Linked DNA regions of Homo sapiens. The protein of the gene in region 6 purifies or fractionates together with the protein of the main gene of each other region. This does not show direct contact. Each region holds a gene or a part of one and is shown on either strand. Other genes may lie near its edges. The genes, in order: NELFB, RCN2, ACAP2, TUT7, SF3A3, POLK and RBM42.

What was found.
Region 1: the proteins of POLK (region 6) and NELFB purify together in Homo sapiens (affinity purification with mass spectrometry, with the first as the bait; one large-scale study listed by BioGRID). This does not show direct contact.
Region 2: the proteins of POLK (region 6) and RCN2 purify together in Homo sapiens (affinity purification with mass spectrometry, with the first as the bait; one large-scale study listed by BioGRID). This does not show direct contact.
Region 3: the proteins of POLK (region 6) and ACAP2 purify together in Homo sapiens (affinity purification with mass spectrometry, with the first as the bait; one large-scale study listed by BioGRID). This does not show direct contact.
Region 4: the proteins of POLK (region 6) and TUT7 purify together in Homo sapiens (affinity purification with mass spectrometry; one large-scale study listed by BioGRID and IntAct). This does not show direct contact.
Region 5: the proteins of POLK (region 6) and SF3A3 purify together in Homo sapiens (affinity purification with mass spectrometry, with the first as the bait; one large-scale study listed by BioGRID). This does not show direct contact.
Region 7: the proteins of POLK (region 6) and RBM42 purify together in Homo sapiens (affinity purification with mass spectrometry, with the first as the bait; one large-scale study listed by BioGRID). This does not show direct contact.

Annotation. Positions count from the first base shown.
Region 1 is NC_000009.12:137,258,327-137,261,826, forward strand, and holds part of NELFB (negative elongation factor B), read left to right. Parts: intron 1-3,500. UniProt on the Homo sapiens protein: Essential component of the NELF complex, a complex that negatively regulates the elongation of transcription by RNA polymerase II.
Region 2 is NC_000015.10:76,951,821-76,954,893, reverse strand, and holds the end of RCN2 (reticulocalbin-2 isoform a precursor), read right to left. Parts: 3' UTR 501-3,073; downstream 1-500.
Region 3 is NC_000003.12:195,436,521-195,440,020, forward strand, and holds part of ACAP2 (arf-GAP with coiled-coil, ANK repeat and PH domain-containing protein 2), read right to left. Parts: intron 1-3,500. UniProt on the Homo sapiens protein: GTPase-activating protein (GAP) for ADP ribosylation factor 6 (ARF6). Doesn't show GAP activity for RAB35.
Region 4 is NC_000009.12:86,316,411-86,319,910, forward strand, and holds part of TUT7 (terminal uridylyltransferase 7), read right to left. Parts: intron 3,261-3,500; coding exon 3,174-3,260; intron 2,649-3,173; coding exon 2,548-2,648; intron 867-2,547; coding exon 809-866; intron 1-808. UniProt on the Homo sapiens protein: Uridylyltransferase that mediates the terminal uridylation of mRNAs with short (less than 25 nucleotides) poly(A) tails, hence facilitating global mRNA decay. Essential for both oocyte maturation and fertility.
Region 5 is NC_000001.11:37,973,023-37,976,522, forward strand, and holds part of SF3A3 (splicing factor 3A subunit 3), read right to left. Parts: intron 1-3,500. UniProt on the Homo sapiens protein: Component of the 17S U2 SnRNP complex of the spliceosome, a large ribonucleoprotein complex that removes introns from transcribed pre-mRNAs.
Region 6 is NC_000005.10:75,605,891-75,608,190, reverse strand, and holds part of POLK (DNA polymerase kappa), read right to left. Parts: 3' UTR 1-2,300. UniProt on the Homo sapiens protein: DNA polymerase specifically involved in DNA repair. Plays an important role in translesion synthesis, where the normal high-fidelity DNA polymerases cannot proceed and DNA synthesis stalls.
Region 7 is NC_000019.10:35,635,111-35,638,185, reverse strand, and holds the end of RBM42 (RNA-binding protein 42), read right to left. Parts: intron 1,029-3,075; coding exon 834-1,028; intron 745-833; coding exon 632-744; 3' UTR 501-631; downstream 1-500. UniProt on the Homo sapiens protein: Binds (via the RRM domain) to the 3'-untranslated region (UTR) of CDKN1A mRNA.

The DNA.
Region 1 (3,500 bases), on a different chromosome or scaffold from region 6:
TTGCCCAGGCTGGTCTCGAACTCCTGGGCTCAAGTAATCTGTCTGCACACCTCAGCCTCCTGAAGTGCTGGGATTATAGGTGTGAGCGACCACAACTGGTTGTGAGATTTTTTAATTAGCCAATTTTTTTTTTTTTTTTTGAGACAGAGTCTTGCTCTGTCACCCAGACTGGAGTGCAGGGCCTCAATCTCGGCTCACTGTAACCTCTGCCTCCTGAGTTCAAGCAATTCTCCTGCCTCGGCCTCTCGAGTAGCTGAGACTACAGGCGCGCCCCACCATGCCTGGCTAATTTTTTTATTTTTTTGTTTAGTACAGACAGGGTTTCACCATGTTGACCAGGCTGGTCTTGAACTCCTGACCTCAGGTAATCCGCCCACCTTGGCCTCCCAAAGTGCTGGGATTACAAGTGTGAGCCACTGCGCCCGGCCCTAACCAACTTTAAACTAGCACTGTTCAGTGGAAAAAGCGAACTATAAGTTAAGATTTTTCAGCATCCACATTAAGAAAAAAAAATGAGATCAACTTCATTAATGTTTTCTTTGGTCCAGTATATCCAAAATATTATCTTTCAGCATGTAATTCATGTGAAAGATTGGGCTGGGTACGGTGGCTCACGCCTGTACTCCTAGTACTTTGGGAGGCGGAGGTGGGAGGATCGCTTGAGCTTAGTAGTTAAAGACCAAAGGGAGACCTTGTCTCTACAAGAAAAAAAAATTAAGCTAAGCATGGTGGTGCGTACCTGTTGTCTCAACTACTCAGGAGGCTGAAGCAGGAGGATTGCTTAGGCCTCGGATATTGAGGCTGCAGTGAGGTATGATTGAGCCACTGCACTCCAACCTGGGCGACAGAGTGAGAGATCCTGTCTCAAAAGGAAAAAAAAAATATTGAGCTATAATGCTTTTTGCGGGAGGATCACTAAGATTTGAAACCTGGTGAGTCTTTCATGCTTAGAGCCCATCTGAACTACTGCACTTCAAACGCTGAGCAGTTAGTGTGGCTCTGGGTTCCCTTCGGGCCGTGGTTCCTGACCATGTGCGTGGGCAGCAGCAGGCTTGTTGGGGGTGGCAGTGCCACCTCTGTCCTCCCTTCCCTGTTTGTTTATTCCCAGTTAGGTCCTCCATGGGCCTTTTTCTTGTTCCATTGCTGTCAGACAGAGCCCTTGGACCCCTCTGCTAACTGTGGGGTGCCCTGCATTTCCCAGGCCTTTCTCCTATCGCCTGTCTCTTCTGGTGACTTGGTGCTGCCTATACTGATTTCTGTCTGTAAGGGAAATCAGTCGGCTTGGTCGGCTTAGTCCTAGGTTGATTCTCTTTTATTTTTATTTTATTTTATTTTATATATTTTTATCTTGTTTTATTTTACTACTTTTTAAAATTTATTTTTTATTTTTTTATTATTTATTTATTTATTTTTTTGGAGACAGAGTCTTGCTCTGTCACCCAGGCTGGAGTGCAGTGGCACGATCTTGGCTCACTGCAAGCTCCGCCTCCCGGGTTCACTCCATTCTCCTGCCTCAGCCTCCCAAGTAGCTGGGACTACAGGCGCCTGCCACCATGCCCGGCTAATTTTTTGTATTTTTTTTTTTAGTAGAGACGGGGTTTCACAGTGTTAGCCAGGATGGTCTCAATCTCCTGACCTTGTGATCCACCTGCCTCAGCCTCCCAAAGTGTTGGGATTATGGGCGTGAGCCACCGTGCCTGGCCTATTTTTATTTTTATTTATTTTATTTTATTTTATTTTTGAGACAGAATCTTGCTCTGTTGCCCAGGCTGGAGTGCAGTGGTGCAATCTCGGCTCACTGCAAGCTCCGCCTCCCGGGTTCACTCCGTTCTCCTGCCTCAGCCTCCCGAGTGGCTGGGACTACAGGCGCCCACCACCACGCCCAGCTATGTTTTTTGTATTTTTAGTAGAGATGGGGTTTCACCATGTTAGCCAGGATGGTCTCGATCTCCTGACCTCATGATCCACCCGCCTCGGCCTCCCAAAGTGCTGGGATTACGGGCGTGAGCCACTGAGACCGGCTATTTTATTTTATTATTTTTTTTAATTTTTAAAATTTATTTTTTAAAATTTTTTTTATTTATTTTATTTTAATTTTATATTTTGTTTTATTTTATTTTAGTTTGTTTTATTTTTTTTTTTTTGAGACGTAGTGTCCTTCTGTTGCCCAGGCTGGAGTGCAGTGGTGTGATCTCAGCTCACTGCAACCTCAGTCTCCCAGGTTCAAGTGATTCTCCTGCCTCAACCTCCCGAGTAGCTGGGATTACAGGCACCCACCACCACGCCCGACTAATTTTTGTATTTTTAGTAGAGATGGGGTTTCACCATGTTGGCCAGGCTGTTCTCGAACTCCTGGCCTCAGGTAGTCCACCCACCTTGGGCTCCCAATTTGCTGCAATTACAGGTGTGAGCCACCGTGCCCAGCCCGATTCTCTTTTAAAAAGCTAAATTAGGCCGGGTGCGGTGGCTCACGCCTGTAATCCCAGCACTTTGGGAGGCAGAGGTGGGTGGATCACGAGGTCAGGAGTTCGAGACCAGCCTGACCAACATGGTAAAAACCCATCTCTACTAAAAATACAAAAATTAACCAGACCTGGTGGTGTGCGCCTGTAGTCCCAGCTACTCAGGAGGCTGAGGCAGGAGAATCACTTGAACCCGGGAGGTGGAGGTTGCAGTTAGCCAAGATTGCGCCACTGTACTAGGCGACAGAGTGAGACTCAGTCGCAAAAAAAAAAGCTGGGCGCAGTGACTCACGCCTGTAATCCCAGCACTTTGGGAGGCCGAGGCGGGTGGATCATGAGGTCAGGAGATCGAGACCATCCTGGCTAACATGGTGAAACCGCATCTACTAAAAATACAAAAAATTAGCTGGGCGTGGTGGTGGGTGCCTGTAGTCCCAGCTGCTCGGGAGGCCGAGGCAGGAGAATGGTGTGAACCTGGGAGGTGGAGCTTGCAGTGAGCTGAGATCACGCCACTGCACTCCAGCCTGGGTAACAGAGCACGACTCGGTTTCAAAAAAAAAAAAAAAAAGTAAAAAAAAAAAAAAACTGGGTCAGGTGTGTGGCTCATGCCTGCAATCCTAGCACTTTGGGAGGCCGAGGTGGGTGGATCACCTGAGCTCAGAAGTTCAAGACCAGCCCGGGCAACATGGTGAAACCCCGTCTCTACTACAATACAAAAAATTAGCCAGTCATGGCAGCCGGCGCCTGTAATCCCAACTACTTGGGAAGCTGAGACAGGAGAATAGCTTGAATCCGGGAGGTGGAGGTTGCAGTGAACCAAGATCTTGCCATTGCACTCCAGCCTGGGTGACAGCGCAAGACTCCGTCTCAAAAAAAAAAAAAAAAAAAATTGATTGGGTGTAGGGACCAGCCCCACAGGGTTGATGGGTTTTTCTCCCCGTGTGCGGAGATGAGAGATTGTAGAAGTAAAGACACAAGGCAAAGAAATGAAAAGACAGCTGGGCCCGGGGGACCATTACCACCAAGACGCGGAGACTG
Region 2 (3,073 bases), on a different chromosome or scaffold from region 6:
GACAGGCCAGCAGCTGGCACAAAAAGACCTTAGTTTATGCTTTTAGTGTGTCATTGTAATGGAACAGTCTCTCTACTTAGGTTACCAATCACTGCTAATGGTACAATAACTGAGCAAAATGTTGATGCCCTCTGTTCATTGGAACCTGGTCTCAGAAGAAAAATATCTCTGTGGAACAGAAAGCAAAAGTAGGGTTTTTTTCTTTAAGGTATGAAAAATCATGATTAAAAGCTATGAGATTTTTAAAAATCCCCATAATCACTTTAAAATAGTTTTATAAGCTCAAATGGTTTCCTTTCTACAGCTCAGGAACTAACTGGTTAATTTGAGATAAAGATAGGGCAAACTGTAGGTATTCAGCAGTACTTGTTTTTTTTGTGCTTGGATTGAGGTGTTTCCCCCCCCCCCCGCCAAATAAAATAGAGACGTTTTAGTAGCTGCACTGGAGGCCCTTAGGTAATTGGTTACTAGTTATAAAAAATTTTATAGCAGGCAGGAAATCTGGCCAAATATTTATTCGACAGAACTCAAATGTTGCAATGAAGCAAATTAGTTTTTACAGTTGTTTAAAAACTTTTACTCTAAGTGGCTTTCCTAAATCATCTTCCTAAGTGAAAAAGTGTAAGTTTGAGTTGACATTTCTCACTCAAAAGGAGGTATTGTAACACAAAAACGTTTGAGAAACAATAGCATACATTTATCCTCACATTTAAATTGCAAAGGAATGATATTCTGGAACAGGCAAAACTGTAGAGACAGACCATTAGGGAAATGCAAATCAAAGCCACAACGAGATACCACGTCTCACCCAACAGGATGGCTACTATTAAAAAAAAAAAAGAAAAAAAAAAAAACAGAAAATAGCAAGTGTTGGTAAGGATGTAAAGAAACTGGAACTCTTGTGCACTATTGGTGGAAATGCAAAATGGCACAGCTGCTGTGGGAAACACTATGGCAGTTCCTCAAAATATTAAAAATAGAATTACTAGTCGGGCGCGGTGGCTCACGCCTGTAATCCCAGCACTTTGGGAGGCCAAGGCGGGCGGATCACGAGGTCAGCAGATCAAGACCATCCTGGCTAACACGGTGAAACCCCGTCTCTACTAAAAATACAAAAAATTAGCCGGGTGCGGTGGCAGGCGCCTATAGTCCCAGCTACTCGGGAGGCTGAGGCAGGAGAATGGTGTGAACCCGGGAGGCGGAGCCTGCAGTGAGCCGAGATCGCGCCACTGCACTCCAGCCTGGGCGACAGAGCGAGACTCCGTCTCAAAAAAAAAAAAAAAAAAAAAAAAAAAAAAAATATATATATATATATATATATATATATATATATATATAGAATTACTATATGATCCAGCAATCCCACTTCTATGTATAATATATATCCAAAAGAACTAAAAGCAGGATCTCAAAGAAATATTTGTACACCCATATTCATGGCAGCATTATTCACAATAAAAGGTGGAAGCAACCTGTGTCCATCAAAGGGTGAATGGATAAGCAAAATGTGGTATATGCAAACAATAAAGTATTGTTCAGCCTGACGAAAGAAATTCTGGTAACAATATGGGTGAACTTTGGGGACGTTATGCTAAGTGAAGCCACTCACAAAAAGACAAATACTATATGAGTCTATTTTAATAGACACAAACTAGAATGGGGCTGGGCGCGGTGGCTCATGCCCGTAATCTCAGCACTTTGGGAGGCCGAGGCAGGTGGATCACCTGAGGTCAAGAGTTCGAGACCAGCCATGCCAACATGGCGAAACCCCGTCTCTACTAAAAGTACAAAAATTAGCCGGGCGTGGTAGCGGGCATCTATAATCCCAGCTACTTGGGAGGCTGAGGCAGGAGAATCGCTTGAACCTGGGAGGTGGAGGTTGCAGTGAGCCGAGATCGCACCACTGCACTCCAGCCTGGATGACAAGAGTGAGACTCCGTCTCAAAAAAGAAAGAAAAAGAAAACTAGAATGGGAGGCTGGGCACGGTGGCTCACGCCTGTAATTCCAGCACTTTGGGAGGCTGAGGCAGGTGGATCACCTGAGATCAGGAGTTCGAGACCAGCTTGACCAACATGGTGAAACCCCATTTCTACTAAATACAAAAAATTAGGGGGCATGGTGGTGCCCGCCTGTAATCCCACCTAGTCGGGAGGCTGAGGCAGGAGAATCGCTTGACCCCAAGAGACAGAGGTTGCAGTGAGCCGAAATCATGCCATTGCACTCCAGCCTGGGCAACAAGAGCAAGACTCCATCTCAAACAAAAAAACTAGAATGGTGTTTGCCAGGTGCTGAAGGGAAGGGGAAAGGGGGCTTTATTGTTTAATGGGTATAAATTTCCGTTTTACAAATGAAGTTCATGGAGATGGAAGGTGGTAATAGTTTCACATTTTGACTGTATTTAATACCATACCACCGAACTGTACAATTAAAAACTGTTAAGATGAATTTTGTTATGTGTATTTTACTACAATCTAAAAAATTATGAACAGTAAAAAGATCAGTATTGCTTGGGGTTACAGGGAAGGGAGGGATGAATAGGTGGAGCAGAAAGACTTTAGGGCAAGGGAAATATTCTACCACACTACAATGGTGGGAATATGTAATTATACATTTGTCCAAACCCAGAGCATGTGCAGCACCAAGAGTGAACCCTAATGTAAACTATGCACTTTGGGTGACAATGATATGTTAACAGTTTCATCGATTTTAACAAATGTACCACTCTGGTAGGTACTATCTCATGACATATAGGATAGGATAGTGGGGGAGGCTGTACGTATGTGGGGCAGGGGACATATTGAAACTCTCTATACTACTTTTTGCTCAATTTTGCTGTGAACATAAAACTACACTAAAAAAAAAAAAAGCCTATTTTTAAAACTGCAAAGGAAAGAACTAAGTAAGGCAAACATGATATGCTAGCTTTTCCTCTGAACGTCCTGGCTTCCTTTAAATTTATATCATAATCTAGACATCATTTTCTGTCCTGCAAATTGGCCCAATCAGAACTACATATGAGCCAACATGTGCACATCCCATTCAATTTTCCCCTTTGAAGTTGTACCTGAACTC
Region 3 (3,500 bases), on a different chromosome or scaffold from region 6:
CTGTTTGCATGGTTTGTCTTTTACTTTCAACCTATTTATGTCCTTAAATCTAAAGTATGTCTCTTCCTAAATACCATATAGTTGAATCATCCCTGAAATTTTAATAAGGCCAAATAATAAAAAGTTTTAAATAAATAAGGCCAAAATACATAGAAAGACATATCCTCTTCTGAAATTGAAGAAAAAAGTACTGTAAAGACTAAATATGTAAAACATATAACAAGAGGAAATTTGTCCTCCCGCACATCACAAAAGGGATGTGCGATTCATTTTAAATCAATGAAGAATGAATTTTTTTTAAAGGTGTTAGAACAAGTGGTTTTCATTAGGAAGAAAATAAAATTAGATTATCTGCTACAATCAAAACTAAGACCCAGTTGCATTACATGAAACTTAAAATCACTATAAAATGACAGAAAAATATAATGGGGTAGGGAAACTTTGCTAGGCAATAAACAAAAGCCAGCTTTTAAATTTCTATATGATAAAAGACACCATAAACAACGCAAATTTAACTGACACAATATTTAATAATTTTTTTTAAAGAGACAGGGTCTTGCTCTGTCTTCCAAGGTGGAGTACAGTGGCATCACCATAGCTCACTGTAACCTCAAACTCCAGGGCATCACAATCCTCCTGCCTCAGCCTCCTGAGTAGCTGGGACTACAGGCGTGGGCCACATTTGGCTAATTTTTTTTTTTTTGTAAAGACAGGGTCTCACTCTGTTGCCTAGGTTGATTTCAAACTCCTGGCCTCAAGTGATCCTCCCTCCTCAGCCTCCTGAACTGTTGAGATTATAGCATAAGCTACTGCACCCAGCCTAACAAATGAAATTAAAGCCTTTGGCTTAACATATAGAGTAAATGAGTGAATTCTCTTCCAGGACCACCATGTGAAAGTTCACCATTAAGAAAGTCAATTACTAGCAAAAGAAGTAACTATTTTTAAAAAGTCAATTAATCTATCAAAATGTCCAGTTGCAGATTTTTCCGGATTTTTTAAAACATTTTTGAGTCTGGTCGAGGTGGCTCACACCTGCAATCCCAGCATTTTGGGAGGCCGAAGCTGGTGGATCACAAGGTCAGGAGTTCAAGACCAGCCTGGCCAACATAGTGAAACCCCGTCTCTACTAAAAATATAAAAAATTAGCCAGGTGTGGTGGCAGGCGCCTGTAATCCCAGCTACTCGGGAGGCTGAGGCAGGAGAATCACCTGAACCAGGGAGGTGGAGGTTGCAGTGAGTGGAGATTGCACCACTGCACTCCAGCCTGGGCGACAGTGTGAGACTCTGTCTCAAAAAAAAAAAAAAAAAAAAGCAAAAAAAAACCCACATTTTTAAAATGAGGATAAGTCCTACTTTACATGCTTTTTTTTTTTTTTTTTTTTCATTAAAATTAGAGACAAGGTCTCTATGTTGCCCAGGCTGGTCTCAGGCAATCCTTCCACCTCGACCTCACAAAGTGCTGGGATTACAAATGTAAGCCATTGCGCCCCACCTGCAAGAATTTTCTTTTTTTTTTTTTTGAGATGGAGTCTCACTCTGTCCCCCAGGCTGGAGTGCAGTGGCGCAATCTCAGCTCACTGCAACCTCTGCCTCCCAGGTTCAAGCAATTCTCCTGCCTCAGCCTCCCGAGTAGCTGGGATTACAGGTGCCCACCATCACGCCCACCTAATTTTTTTGTATTTTTAGTAGAGATGGTGTTTCACCATGCTGGCCAGGCTGGTTTCGAACTCCTGACCTCAACTGATCTGCCCACCTCAGCCTCCCAAAGTGCTAGGATTACAGGTTTGAGCCACCACACCCAGTCAGGATTCCTGTATTTTGGTTCATAATAAAATTACTTTATAATTCCATTCTACTGCTTCTGAGATTAAAAAAAAAAAAAATTTCCCCTCAGCCCTTACCCACTGTATTAACAGGCAGTTGCTAAAAGTTTATTATAAAGATGGAAGGCAAAGGAAGGAGACAAGATTGGCACCAATCCAGACTTAATAGCAACACATAACTGAGGTGTATTTAGTAGTCACATTTTATTCCAATGTCTTTCGCCCATTAAAACCTTTCACCTGACTGGGCATGGTGACTCATACCTGTAATCCCAGCTACTCAGGAGGCTGCGGCAGGAGAATCACCTGAGTCCAGGAGTTGGAGAACAGCCTGGATAACAAGTAAGACTCTGTCTCTCAAACATAATTCACCCACAAACACCCTTTTTAAAAAAAAAGTTATTCTAAGTTACTGAACAAGAATCGTATCTAGCCGGGCATGGTGGCTTATGCCTGTAATCCCAGCACTTTGGGAGGCTGAGGCGGGCGGATCACCTGAGGTCAGGAGTTCGAGACCAGCCTGGCTAACATGGTGAAACTCCGTTTCTACTAAAAATACAAAAAATTAGCCAGGCGTGGAGGTGCACGCCTATAATCCCAGTTACTCGGGAGGCTGAGGCAGGAGAACTGCTTGAACCCAAGAGCCGGAGGGTGCAGTGAGCCGACATCGTGCCATTGCACTCCAGCTTGGGCAACAAGAGCAGAACTCTATCTCAAAAAAAAAAAGAATCATATCTGAAATAGAATCTAAAAATGAAAAACCTGCAGGATGGTGTATGATAGACATTGTTAAAGGATAAAAATAAATTATCAGATAAAAACTAAAGCATACCAAGGCTAAGGCCTTTTTTTTTTTTTTTTTAAGAGAGAGAGAGAGAGTCTAGCTCTGTTGCCCAGGCTGGAGTGCAGAGGTGTGAACATAACTCACTGCAGCCTTGACCTCCTGCCTCAGCTTCCCATGTAGCTGGAATCACAGATGCACGCCACCATGCCCAACTAATTTTTTTATTTTTGTAGAGACGGTGTCTCACTTTGTTGCCCAGGCTGGTCTCAAACTCCTGGCCTCAAGCGATCCTCTTGTCTCAGCCTTCCAAACTGCTGGGATTACAGGCATGAACCACTGCACCTGGCCACAATATTTTTATACTTGAACACTGCTGACAAAAATCTTTCATAATTCAGAAAGATGTTTATTTATTCAATTTATTTATTCTACTTTTTATTTCAAATAGATATTCACTTCCTAAGTAAAACAGAATACATTTTGGGTTTTTTTGTTTTTTTTGTTTTTTTTGTTTTTGAGACAGTCTCGCTCTGTTGCCCAGGCTGGAGTACAGTGGCACAACCTCAGCTCACTACAGCCTCTGCCTCCCAGGTTCAAGCAGTTCTCATGCCTCAGTCTCCCAAGTAGCTGGGATTACAGGTGCACACTACCACACCCGGCTAATTTTTGTATTTTTAGTAGAGATGGGGTTTTACCATGTTGGCCAGGCTGGTGTCAAACTCCTGACCTTAAGTGATCCGCCGTCCTCCACCTCCCAAAGTGCTGGGATTACAGATGTGAGCCACAGTGTTCAGCCCAAGAGTATGTTTAAGTAAAAGAAAAGCAGTACTTTTACGGAGGTTTTGTAAAATTTTAAAGACCTACTACATGCAACTACATACAATTAAGGG
Region 4 (3,500 bases), on a different chromosome or scaffold from region 6:
AACCTAGCAAGATCCCATTTCTTAAAAAAAGAGATCGCTTCAAGTGAAGGACTTGTTCAGGGTCATATACAGCTTGTTGAGCAGAACAGCTGCAAATTCAACCCACAAGCCCAGTCCGGGGTGCTTTCCTTGACACTTCACACAATTAGCAACTCCTACACTTTGACTTATACAACGCCAACAAAGGAAAAGGATTTATAGCCTTTCTTGCCTGTCTGGCGTAGGCTTTGTCTTGAAATAAAACTGAGCTAGGCAACAATATGCATATAAATTATCACCAATTCCTCAGTCTTTCATACTTACGCATACAAGATTTTAAAAAGACATTAATATTGCAATTATTCTATGAATGAGCCACTATACTGCTTCATGGCATTAATAAACTCTAAATACAATTGGCCTTTCATGTCTGTGGGTCCTGCATCCCCATATCCAATCAAACACAAACCAAAAATATTTAAGAGAAAAAAGCAACTAATAAAAAACTAACGATACAACAATAAAAAAATACAAATAAAAAATACAGTATAACAACTATTTACATAGTATTTACACTGTATTAGGTATTATAAGTAACCTAGAGATGACTAAAACTATATGGAAGGATGCATATAGGTTATATGTAAATACTATGCCATTTTATATAAGGAACTTGAGCATCTAAGGATTTTTTTTATCTGCTGGGGAAGGGAGGGTTGAGGGGTGATGGGTGGGCCTGGAACAAATACCCCATGGATACCAAGGGAAGACTATAGAAAACACTAATTAAAAAGTCAGAAATATTTTTAGAAAAAGTTTACAGAGGTACCTGAATGTTTTCTGAGGACTCTTGCTAATTCTTCAATAGTTCTGACACAGTCCAATCCCTACAACAAAGAAGGCATAAAGAACTTAACCAAAACTGGAAGACAGGTTCTGAAACTGGCTATAGTTTCCATTACCTTCAGAAATAATGTAATTAATTTCAAGTCAGTCTATATCTATTTTTTTCCTTTCTAGTTGGGTATTAGAGTCAGTATTCACAGGAAATATCCTGACGGTACAAAAACCACTAAATACCCTACTTCCTAATTGTTTTTGGGTGTGCAACAAAGGCTAAAATCAGTCAGGAAGCTTATGGACCTAGGGCTTCCAAAAAAGTCTCTGAACCATGGTTGAGGACCTTCATTTCTTCCCCTCCACATAATATCACTCGGATGTACCCCATGTCCCAGAATAAATGAGAGGAGGCTTCTGTGCCCCAGCTCATTCATTCTAAGCAGACCTTCTATAGTTTAAGAGTTGATGAATTGCTGTGGAGAGTGATTAAGCTCAAATTATTTCCCTATAGGACTAGCCAGAATTATAATGCATATAACTAAAGTCATACAGCAAATATAAATAGTATTTGATAAATCATTCTTAAAAACATTTGGGCTGACTCAACATACGCCTTTTTGATGGTTATAAAAATCCCAGAACATACGTGGAATGTTACTTTAGAAATGCCCTCAAAACTAGTTTATAAGCCATGTAAAAAAATAAATAAATAAATAAACCTTGAGGATGTATGATAGGGTCATTCCATATGTTGAGCCAATCTTGCTTATATACTTTATTCAAATTCAGGCTAGATCACTTTTGACTATTTTCCCAAATCAGATACATCCTCAAAATAGAAAGACTTGAAACTAAGAAAAGGTACAAAAAGGTCTTCAGCAACAGCAGCATCATTCATTTGGATATTTAGCATTTGGACTGCTGTTAAGGATTTAAAAGAATAGGGACTCAGCACTTCCTAGACTTTATACCTTTATATAGTGTTTTATATTTTATAAATGCCTTCAGATATCCCAGGGGCTGGCAAGTTTGTTTTGCTTTGCACGCCATATGGTCTCTTACAACTACTAAACTCTGTACTTAAGAGTGAAGGCAGCCATAGACATTACATATGTGAATGGGTGTGATTCTGTCCCAATAAAACTTTATTTACAAAAACAGGCAGTGGGGGGCTGAATTGCCCAAGGGCCATCGTTTGCTAACTCCTGACCCACATGATCCATGATAATGTGTACAAAAATCAGCGGAGGCAGGAGGAACAGATATTATACTTTATCGATTATTTACCAAAGACCACATGTTTAGGTACTGATGAAACAAGTTTGTCTCAAATCCAGGCCTCTGGACTCTAAGGTTAGTACTCTTATGATTTACCACACTGCCTGTCTGGTAACAAACTTTACAGGTAACCTTATGTGAGTGTGTGATCCAAGTCAGCATAGTAGCCAAGCCAATGGGACACTGAAGAGGCTGGTTTGGCTATGTAGAATTCCCAGGCAACACTTTCCAATCCACTTTTTGCTACAGAGTGAAAGTATAACCTTTCTGCTCCTCACATTCCTCACAACCTTTCCAAGCCTCTTAATGTATTTGGCCAGAGACTGTGCCAAACAGCACACTCTATATGGTATGCCCTGATAAATTTGGAAAATACCAAGCTGTAATGCCAGTCTAGATTGGTTAAATCACACTGCCACAGCAAATGGAAGTTTTATGTGGTCACTGTACCTCAGCAGTTTCAAGTCCATTAATTGTCATACAGACGTCAAGGTCACTCTGTTTGAACCCAAATCCATTTTTGGAGGAGCCAAACAGGCTCAATTTAGTTCCTGTTAGGGATATATGAAAAGTAATAACTAATTACCTGAGTACATTTAATTTTTGATCAAAATGGCCCTCTCATGAATCAAAAACACCCAGTTGTTTAATTATCCTATATTAATCTCATACTTATGTTCTCTGATTAACTGGTCATTTATGCTAAAGTCTTTTTCTCTCAAAGCTTCCTTTACATACAAGCTGTATATGGCAAGAAAGATTACCAGGTGCTCCTTTATTCTTAAATGCAAAGACATTTCAAGGAAAATGTTAGATCACCTCAACACATTTAATAATGTAAGCTTAACTTTGACTCTAAACATAGTATTAAATGAAATTCACTTATGGCACTTGCTAGAATAAACCCTACACTGTTTCTGTTGGTAAATGAGGATTTGGCAGACCAAGGACCATCCTGGGTATATTGCAAAACAATGGAAATCCTGATTCTCAAAATCAGTGTGCTTGTAACACATGAACTGATTTGGAAAAAAGGTTACACTACTTTTCTTAAAAATAAAAAATAAATCATTTACCTGGAAAGTCCTGTCTTATGAAACTTTCTAGGTTTTGCCGAATATGTTCACGAGCCTGATCTTCTATAATTGTTGGAGAAAAATCCTCTGTTTAAAAATAAATAGACATATTGACAAAATAAGCCGGTTGACACTCTTAGAAAAAGCTGAAAAAAATTTATTTTTTAGAAAATAAAACTTACAAGCTTAAATTTAAAAATTCCTAAATCATTGTGTCTTCTCAGTAGATAGCATTAACAAGGTAAAGTTTGTTTTTTATTTATTTTTGAGATAAGGTCTGGTTCTGTCGGCCAGGCTGCAGTGCAGTAGTGTGATCTTAGCTTACTG
Region 5 (3,500 bases), on a different chromosome or scaffold from region 6:
CACAAAATTAACTGGGCATGGTGGCACATGCTTGTAGTCCCAGCTACTCGGGAGGCTGAGGCAGGAGAATCGCTTGGAACCAGGAGGTGGAGGTTGCAGTGAGCTGGGATCATGCCACTACACTCCAGCCTGGGCGACAGAGTGAGACTCTGTCTCCAACAAAAAAAAGAAAAAGAAAAAGAAAAAAAGACTTAAATGTTAAACCTAAAACCATAAAAACCCTAGAAGAAAACCTAGGCAATACCATTCAGGCCATAGGCATGGGCGAGGACTTCATGACTAAAACACCAAAAGCAATGGCAAAAAAAAGCCAAAACTGACAAATCGGATGTAATTACACTAAAGAGCTTCTGCACAGCAAAAGAAACTACCATCAGAGTGAACAGGCAACCTACAGAATGGGAGAAAATGTTTACAATTTACCCATCTGACAAAGGGCTAATATCCAGAATCTACAAAGAACTACAAAGAATCTACAAAGAGAAATGCAAATCAAAACCACAATGAGATACCATCTCACACCAGTTAGAATGGCGATGATTAAAAAGTCAGGAAACAACAGGTGCTGGAGAGGATGTGGAGAAACAGGAACGCTTTTACACTGTTGGTGGGACTGTAAACTAGTTCAACCATTGTGGAAGACAGTGTGGCGATTCCTCAAGGATCTAGAACTAGAAATACCATTTGACCCAGCCATCCCATTACTGGGCATATATCCAAAGGATTGTAAATAATGCTGCTATAAAGACACATGCACACTTACGTTTATTGCAGCACTAGTCACAATAATAAAGACTTGGAACCAACCCAAATGTCCATCAATAATAGACTGGATTAAGAAAATGTTGCACATATACACCATGGAATACTATGCAGCCATAAAAAAGGATGAGTTCGTGTCCTTTGTAGGGACATGGATGAAGCTAGAAACCATCATTCTGAGCAAACTATCGCAAGGACAGAAAACCAAACACCGAATGTTCTCACTCATAGGTGGGAATTGAACAATGAGAATACTTGGACACAGGGTGGGGAACATCACACATCGGGACCTGTTGTGGGGTTGGAGGACGGGGGAGGGATAGCATTAGGAGATATACCTAATGTAAATGACGAGTTAACGGGTGCAGCACACCAACATGGCACATGTACACATATGTAACAAACCTACACGTTGTGCACATGTACCCTAGAACTTAAAGTATAAAAAAAAATTAAAAAAAAAATATTTCCTTAACCAGGACTTTCTTCTCCTTTCCTCACCAAGATGACCACTTTTTTTTTTTTTTTTTTTTTTTGAGATGGAGTCTTGCTCTGTCGCCCAAGCTGGAGTGCAGTGGCGCAATCTCGGCTCACTGCAACCTCTGCCTCCTGGGTTCATGCCATTCTCCTGCCTCAGCCTCCCGAGTAGCTGGGACTACAGATGCCCGCCACTATGCCTGGCTAATTTTTTATACTTTTAGTAGAGACAGGGTTTCACAGTGTTAGCCAGGATGGTCTCGATCTCCTGACCTTGTGATCTGCCCGCCTTGGCCTCACAAAGGGCTGGGATTACGGGCATGAGCCACTGCGCCCGGCCCAAGATGACCACTTTCTAACTTGCCTTGAGTCTCTCCTCATTCCAATCCAATTTCCATTTTGCTACCAGGTTTATCTGTTTAAAAACCCAAATCTGTAGTGGCACGCTATCCTACTTAAGAGAACTTTTATTGGCTTCCTACTGCTTATAAGGCAAAGTCCAAATTTCCAACATAACTCTCTGACAGAGTTTTCTCCGACCATTCCCTCCCTCATAAGCCATATTCCACACACACTGCATTTCTCATTTCCTGAACATATAATTTTATCTAATACTGTTGTATCTTTGTGTTTGCTGTTTCCTCTACCAGAAACTTTTTCTTCTCCCTTCTCTCTTTCTACTTAGAAGACTCAACCTCACTTTATTCAGGTATGTATCACATTATATTGTAATTATTTGTCTCCCCTAACCACAAAATGAGTTTCTTAAGGGCAAGAGGCTGTGTCTTATTCACTATTGTATCAAAAAAATTTGCATAATGTCCAAAAACCAACAGACATCAACAAATGGTATAATAATGGCAAAAATCTTATCAGTTCATAGTGAGAGCAACTTCTGGAAAGTATTTGGCTAGAACTGGTTGGAATTCCGAAGAGAATAGTGCCATCTCCTGGCAGGGAAAGCAAAATGCTCTTAAAGGATGGAGAGGCCGTCGAGTGGCTCCAGCACTTTGGGAGGCCAAGGCAGGCGGATCACTTGAGGCCAGGAATTCAAGACCAGCCTGGCCAACAAGACAAAACCCTGTCTCTACCAAAAATACAAAAATTAGCCAGGTGTGGTGGCACACACCTGTAGTCCCAGCTACCAGGGAGGCTGAGGCACAGGAATCACTTGAACCCAGGAGGCGGAGGTTGCAGTGAGCTGAGATCCCGCCACTGCACTCCAGCCTGGGTGACAGAGTGAGATACTATTTCAAAAAAAAAAAAGAGGGAGAAAGTGGTGGACAAATCTCATGTCAAGGGCATGAGTGGCCTCCCAGCCACTCACAAGACTGGCAATTCAGCCTGCTGTCCACACTAGCACAGCCCAAGTTCACAGCGGAGAATATATCTCTCCAATGTCCAATGTCTAGCTAGCCTTTTACTGAAAGCAGTCATAACAGAATCACAGGTGACTAGTTCTACAGCTATTATACGAATGGTCCTCAAAGGCCGAATGAAAATGTCCACGGCAATTAACAAAAATATGTGAACAAGCTATCTGATCCAGAGCCATCCACTCAACGGACCATGCGAGTATGTGTAAAGGGAAAGGCTCTGAGAGTTAAAAATTGGGCTGGGCGCGGTGGCTCACGCCTGTAATCCCAGCACTTTGGGAGGCCGAGGCAAGCGGATCACGAGGTCAGGATTTCGAGACCAGCCTGACCAATATGGTGAAACCCTGTCTCTACTAAAAATACAAAAAACTAGTCGGGCGTGGTGGCGCATGCCTGTAGTCCCAGCTAGTCAGGAGGCTGAGGCAGGAGACTTGCTTGAACCCTGGAGGTGGAGGTTGCAGTGAGCCCGGATTACACCACTGTACTCCAGCCTGGGTGACAGAGCAAGACTCTGTCTCAAAAAAAAAAAAAAAACTGTACACAGCAGACACAATCAGAAAGGCTGGTCTTCTGAAGGACTCCAGAGACACTGATCATCTTTTCTGGATGAGTGCTGCCCTTTCTTCCACTTTTTCTTCCTGGAAAGAGATTTCTTTTCCTCCTACTCCTCTCCCTGCTTTCTCTCTGAGACAAGCATACTGGTCAGGCTAGGCCTTTCTCTACCCCAACCCACACTTCAGCTCCTCCTGAAATATTCAAGAACATTCACTGCCAGCTTTGTACTAATAATATTCTAGCCCTACTAAGTTTCTCATAATCTTATGAACATGTAAGTTGACTTACATGAGATGACTTATGAAAATGCCTTTTCATAAGTCATAACTG
Region 6 (2,300 bases):
AGTTTCTTACTGCATCTCCAGTGGCTAAAACAGTACCCGACCTGCAATAAGTATTTGTCAAATAAATATGGAATGCAATTTAGCCATGGGAACAGTAACTTGTCTTTGAGTCCTGAAAGCTTTAAGTTTTTCCCCTAAAGGTCTAGACTAAAAAAATATGTTCAATTCTGAAGTAAACCTTTAAAACCAGGTCCTGTTCAAGGATTCCATATTTTTAAAAACATCTTCCTAGATTTCTCTTTGCCCTCCTCTACCAGACGATTTCTCCCTAGACTCCCACTTTGTATATTCATCTATTATAGCCCTCCCTACATTGAATAGAAACTGTCCCTGGGGTGGCTCTCCATTTTTTGAGGACAAACATGTCTTAATAATCTTTATGTCCTTTATCAGCTAGGATTCAGCTATAATTAATAGGAAAACCCAAGTAACTATGGCTTAAACAATTTTTTAATTTGTTTCTTGTGAAAGTCTCAAAGTGTGCAGGCCAGTGCTGATATGTCTCTGTTTTACAAAGCCCCAAGAATCAGCCCCTGCAGCCCACTACTCTACCATCCCCCTGTGCAACCCTTATGTTCAGGTGTAAACGGCAGCATCTGCTTCCAGGCAGCAGGATGGAACAGAGAAATAGAAAGAAGAGGCAAACAGAATGCTACAGCTGCAAGAAAGGAAGGTTCCCAGAAGCAACCACACACAGTACTTCCTTTTTTTTTTTTTTTTTTTGAGACAAGGTCTCGCTTTGTCACCCAGGTTGGAGTGCAGTGGTGCAATCTCAGCTCACTGCAACCTCCGTCTCCCGGGTTCAAGCGATTCTCTTGCCTCAGCCTCCTGAGTAGCTGGGATCACAAGTGTGTGCCACCACGCCCAGCTACTTTTTTGTATTTTGAGTAGAGACGGGGTTTCACCATCTTGGCCAGGCTGGTCTCGAACTCCTGACCTCAGGTGATCCACCCGCCTTGGCCTCCCAAAGTGCTGAGATTACAGGCGTGAGACACCGCACCCGGCCAGTACTTCCTTTTATATCCCATTAGTCAAAACTCAGTCACATGGCTACCCCTAGCTGGGAGGGTGTGAGCTTCAAGGATGGGAGATACATTGTAGTCATCAATTCTGTAACACCTATTTTTCACATTATCACATCTTTTTAATTGAGATACTAAGTTGTCTGCCTGAATTGAAGTTGAGTTCTTCCATAGAGGATTTGCATATGCTTCTGCCAGTCACTAGGGGCAATACTAACCTCACTTTAATTACATTTTCTGCTTGAGCTCTTTAGGATGATACCATTTGTGTGAATTCAGATTACAAGCCTACATGTGTACTGGTTTATGGTTCAAATTCTCACTGGCAGTCCCTCCTTCCAACCAGTGCCAAGGCTGAGCATGCAAATTGCTTTGCTGTGGGGAAAAGCAAGAGAGATCAGATTGTTACTGTGTCTGTGTAGAAAGAAGTAGACATAGGAGACTCCATTTTGTTATGTACTAAGAAAAATTCTTCTGCCTTGAGATTCTGTGACCTTACCCCCAACCCCGTGCTCTCTGAAACATGTGCTGTGTCAACTCAGAGTTGAATGGATTAAGGGCGGTGCAGGATGTGCTTTGTTAAACAGATGCTTGAAGGCAGCATGCTCCTTAAGAGTCATCACCACTCCCTAATCTCAAGTACCCAGGGACACAAAAACTGCGGAAGGCCGCAGGGACCTCTGCCTAGGAAAGCCAGGTATTGTCCAAGGTTTCTCCCCATGTGATAGTCTGAAATATGGCCTCGTGGGAAGGGAAAGACCTGACCGTCCCCCAGCCCGACACCCGTAAAGGGTCTGTGCTGAGGAGGATTAGTAAAAGAGGAAGGAATGCCTCTTGCAGTTGAGACAAGAGGAAGGCATCTGTCTCCTGCCTGTCCCTGGGCAATGGAATGTCTCGGTATAAAACCCGATTGTATGCTCCATCTACTGAGATAGGGAAAAACCGCCTTAGGGCTGGAGGTGGGACCTGCGGGCAGCAATACTGCTTTGTAAAGCACTGAGATGTTTATGTGTATGCATATCTAAAAGCACAGCACTTAATCCTTTACATTGTCTATGATGCCAAGACCTTTGTTCACGTGTTTGTCTGCTGACCCTCTCCCCACAATTGTCTTGTGACCCTGACACATCCCCCTCTTTGAGAAACACCCACAGATGATCAATAAATACTAAGGGAACTCAGAGGCTGGCGGGATCCTCCATATGCTGAACGCTGGTTCCCCGGTTCCCCTTATTTCTTTCTCTATACTTTGTCTCTGTGTCTTTTTCTTTTCCAAAT
Region 7 (3,075 bases), on a different chromosome or scaffold from region 6:
CCTCACCCACAGGTCAGCGCCCCCATCCTGCCCTGACCACTCTGGGCTCTTATCGTCAGGGCACCGGGCCTATTTTCTGCACTGGACCTTGAGCTCTAACGGTGCAGGGCCCAGGACTTTTAGTCACCATTGTGTCCTCAAGCACTGTTCAGACCCTTGGTGAGAGTCTGCTGGATGGAAGAGGGCCTAGAAGCCTGTGAGCTCCAGAAGGGAAGGGCCTAGATCTCCTACCTTGGTGCTGAGAACACAGGAAGTAGCCAGGACACGGGGATGGGCCTCAGCTTGGCTTCACCCTTGCCATTGGCCCCCCTTTCTCCTCTGGAATAAGCAGCACTCAGCATGTGTGGAAGAGGTTTGAAGAGGGAATGGGTGCGCAGGAAGGGCTCAGAAGCCCCCGCCTGGGTGTTTGCCTGGGTAAACTCTCAAGGCTCCCCGCCATTTCCAGCTGTGGGGAAGCCAAGCCCTGCTCCCCACAGCGTGCTTCCATGCCCAGCCAGGGGTGGAAATGAACGTAAATTTATTGAAACTGGTTTTGGGGCAGGGGATGGGTGGACAGCTGGGGGTTTTCCAAAGAGAACTGAGGGAGGAGCCAGCGCCCGGCCAGGTGGGAGCGGGTGCCTGGCCACAGACCCTATCTCAGGCCCAGCTTCTTCTTTTCCTTCTGCTTCTTGCGGACCACGTCCAGATTCCGGTCCTTCCACATGCTCTTGCGAAGCTTGATGGGGCGCGAGCCCACATACTTCCCTGTGGAGACAGAGGGTTCAAGGCAGGCTCGGGTCAGGCTTAGGCCAGCGCCTGCCGCGCCTGCAGTTCCCAGGGGAGGCCGCACCCACCATTCATCTCACGCATGGCGCGCACGTAGTCGCTGGGGTCCTTGAAGCTGACGAAGCCGTAGCCCTTGGTCTTGCCTGTGCGCTTGTCACGGATCACCTTGGCCTTAAGGAAGGATGGGAAGCGGCTGAAGGCGCGTGCCAAGATGTCATCGTTCACCTCATTGCCCAGATCCCCACAGAAGATCCGGAAGTCATCTGGGGATGGGGAAGAGATGACATCAGAGGATGCAGAGGCCTTGCCCAGTGTCTACCTTGTCTGAACGATCCCACCTTTTCGGAGGTATCTAGTCTCTGCCTAGGGACCTCTTAGTAATAATGGTCAACACCTACTGACCCTGCGCCAGGAGCTCTGCTGGCACCTGGAGGGGTGTTTCCATTTCTGGCACTCCCAACCATGCTTTTACACTGAGGCACAGAGAGGTGAAGTCACTGCCCACAGTGACACAAGCAGGAAGCGGCAGAGCTAAGACAAGAGCTCAGGCATCTGGCTCCAGTCCTTACTTTTAACCTTGAACTGCACTGCCCTCCCCACCCCAGGGCCACCTCACTCATTCCTGTAGTAACACCCTTAACTCTGCCCTAGCCCTGGCCTTTCCTCTGAGCCTTGGTGTCCCTTGGTCCCCTGGACCCCTGTCACCCACTGGCTGCCCGTCATGGCACCTCAGGAACATGGGCTTCATCTTTCCTCAGCCCTGCTTCCTTGGCAAGGCCTGCCCTAACTCCCCCTTGAGACCTGGACATGCTGCCTGCTCCTCCGCCATGGCTGCACCCAGCTGACATTCTCATGCTGCCTCTGAGTTGGGCCTGTGCTTCCACTGAACATGCTCTGTCCCAATGAATCCCTGTCCCCACAAGGGAGGGGATGAGGAATATGAGGCTTAAAAGGCTAAGTGAGCCAAGCACAGTGGCTCACGCCTGTGATCCCAGCACTTTGGGAGGCTGAGGCAGGTGGATGACTTGAGCTCAAGAGTTCAAGACCAGCCTGACCAACATGGTGAAACTCCATCTCTACTAAACAATACAAAAATTAGCTGGGTGTGGTGGTGGGTGCCTGTAATCCCAGCTACTCGGAAGGCTGAGGTGGGAGAATTGCTTCAACCCAGGAGGCGGAGGCTGCAGTGAGCCAAGATTACACCACTGCACTCCAACCTGGGTGACAGTGCGAGACTCTGTCTCAAAAAAAAGAAAAAAAAAAAAAACAAAAGAAGAAACAAAACAAAACCAGGCTAAGTGACTTGCCCAAGGTCACAGAGCTAGGGTCTTCTCTGGGCCAGGTAGACGGTCCCAGGAGAGGGGGTGGAAGTCAAACACTGAAGCAGGAGGGGTCCATCTCCTTCCTCAGCCATTGCACGGCTGCCCCATGGCGTCTGTGATATGGGACACTCTAAGCACAAGTTAGGCAATGCCAGGAGCAAACAACCGGACAAACTCAGAAGGTGGGACATCATACATGACAACTGCCCTGGACACTTCAAAAAATATGTACAAAACAAAGAGGCAGGAAAGAGACCGTTCTTATTAAGATATAATCGAGGCTGGGCGTGGTGGCTTATGCCTGTAATCCCAGCACTTTGGAAGGCTGAGGCAGGCGGATCACAAGGTCAGGAGTTCGAGACCAGCCTGGCCAGCATGGTGAAACCCCGTCTCTACTAAAAATACCAAAAATTAGCCAAGCATGGTCGTGCGCGCCTGTAGTCCCAGCTATTCGGGAGGCTGAGGCAGGAGAATTACTTGACCCTGGCAGGTGGAGGTTGCAGTGAGCTGCCGAGATTGCGCCACTGCACTCCAGCCTGGGCGATGGAGCAAGACTCCGTTTCAAAAAAAAAAAAGAAAAAAAAAAAGATATAATTGAAGGACATAAAACTGCATGCATGCTGGTTCAGGGCAAAAACATTAATAGTTCTAACAGAGTTTTGGGACACCTAGGGAAATACGAATATAAACTGAAAAGAAGATACCGAATTAGTTAATGTTCTTAGACTTGATAATAGTATTATGATATGCAAAAAGTATCTCTTTTCTTTTTTTTTTTTTTTTTGAGATGGAGTCTTGTTCTGTTGCCAGGCTAGAGTGCAGTGGCCTGATCTCGGCTCACTGCAACCTCTGCCTCCTGGGTTCAGGCGATACTCCTGTCTCAGCCAACCGAGTAGCTGGGATTATAGGTGCCTCCCACCAAGCCTGGCTAATTTTTTTGTATTTTTAGAGACACGGGATTTCACCATGTTGGCCAGGCTGGTCTTGA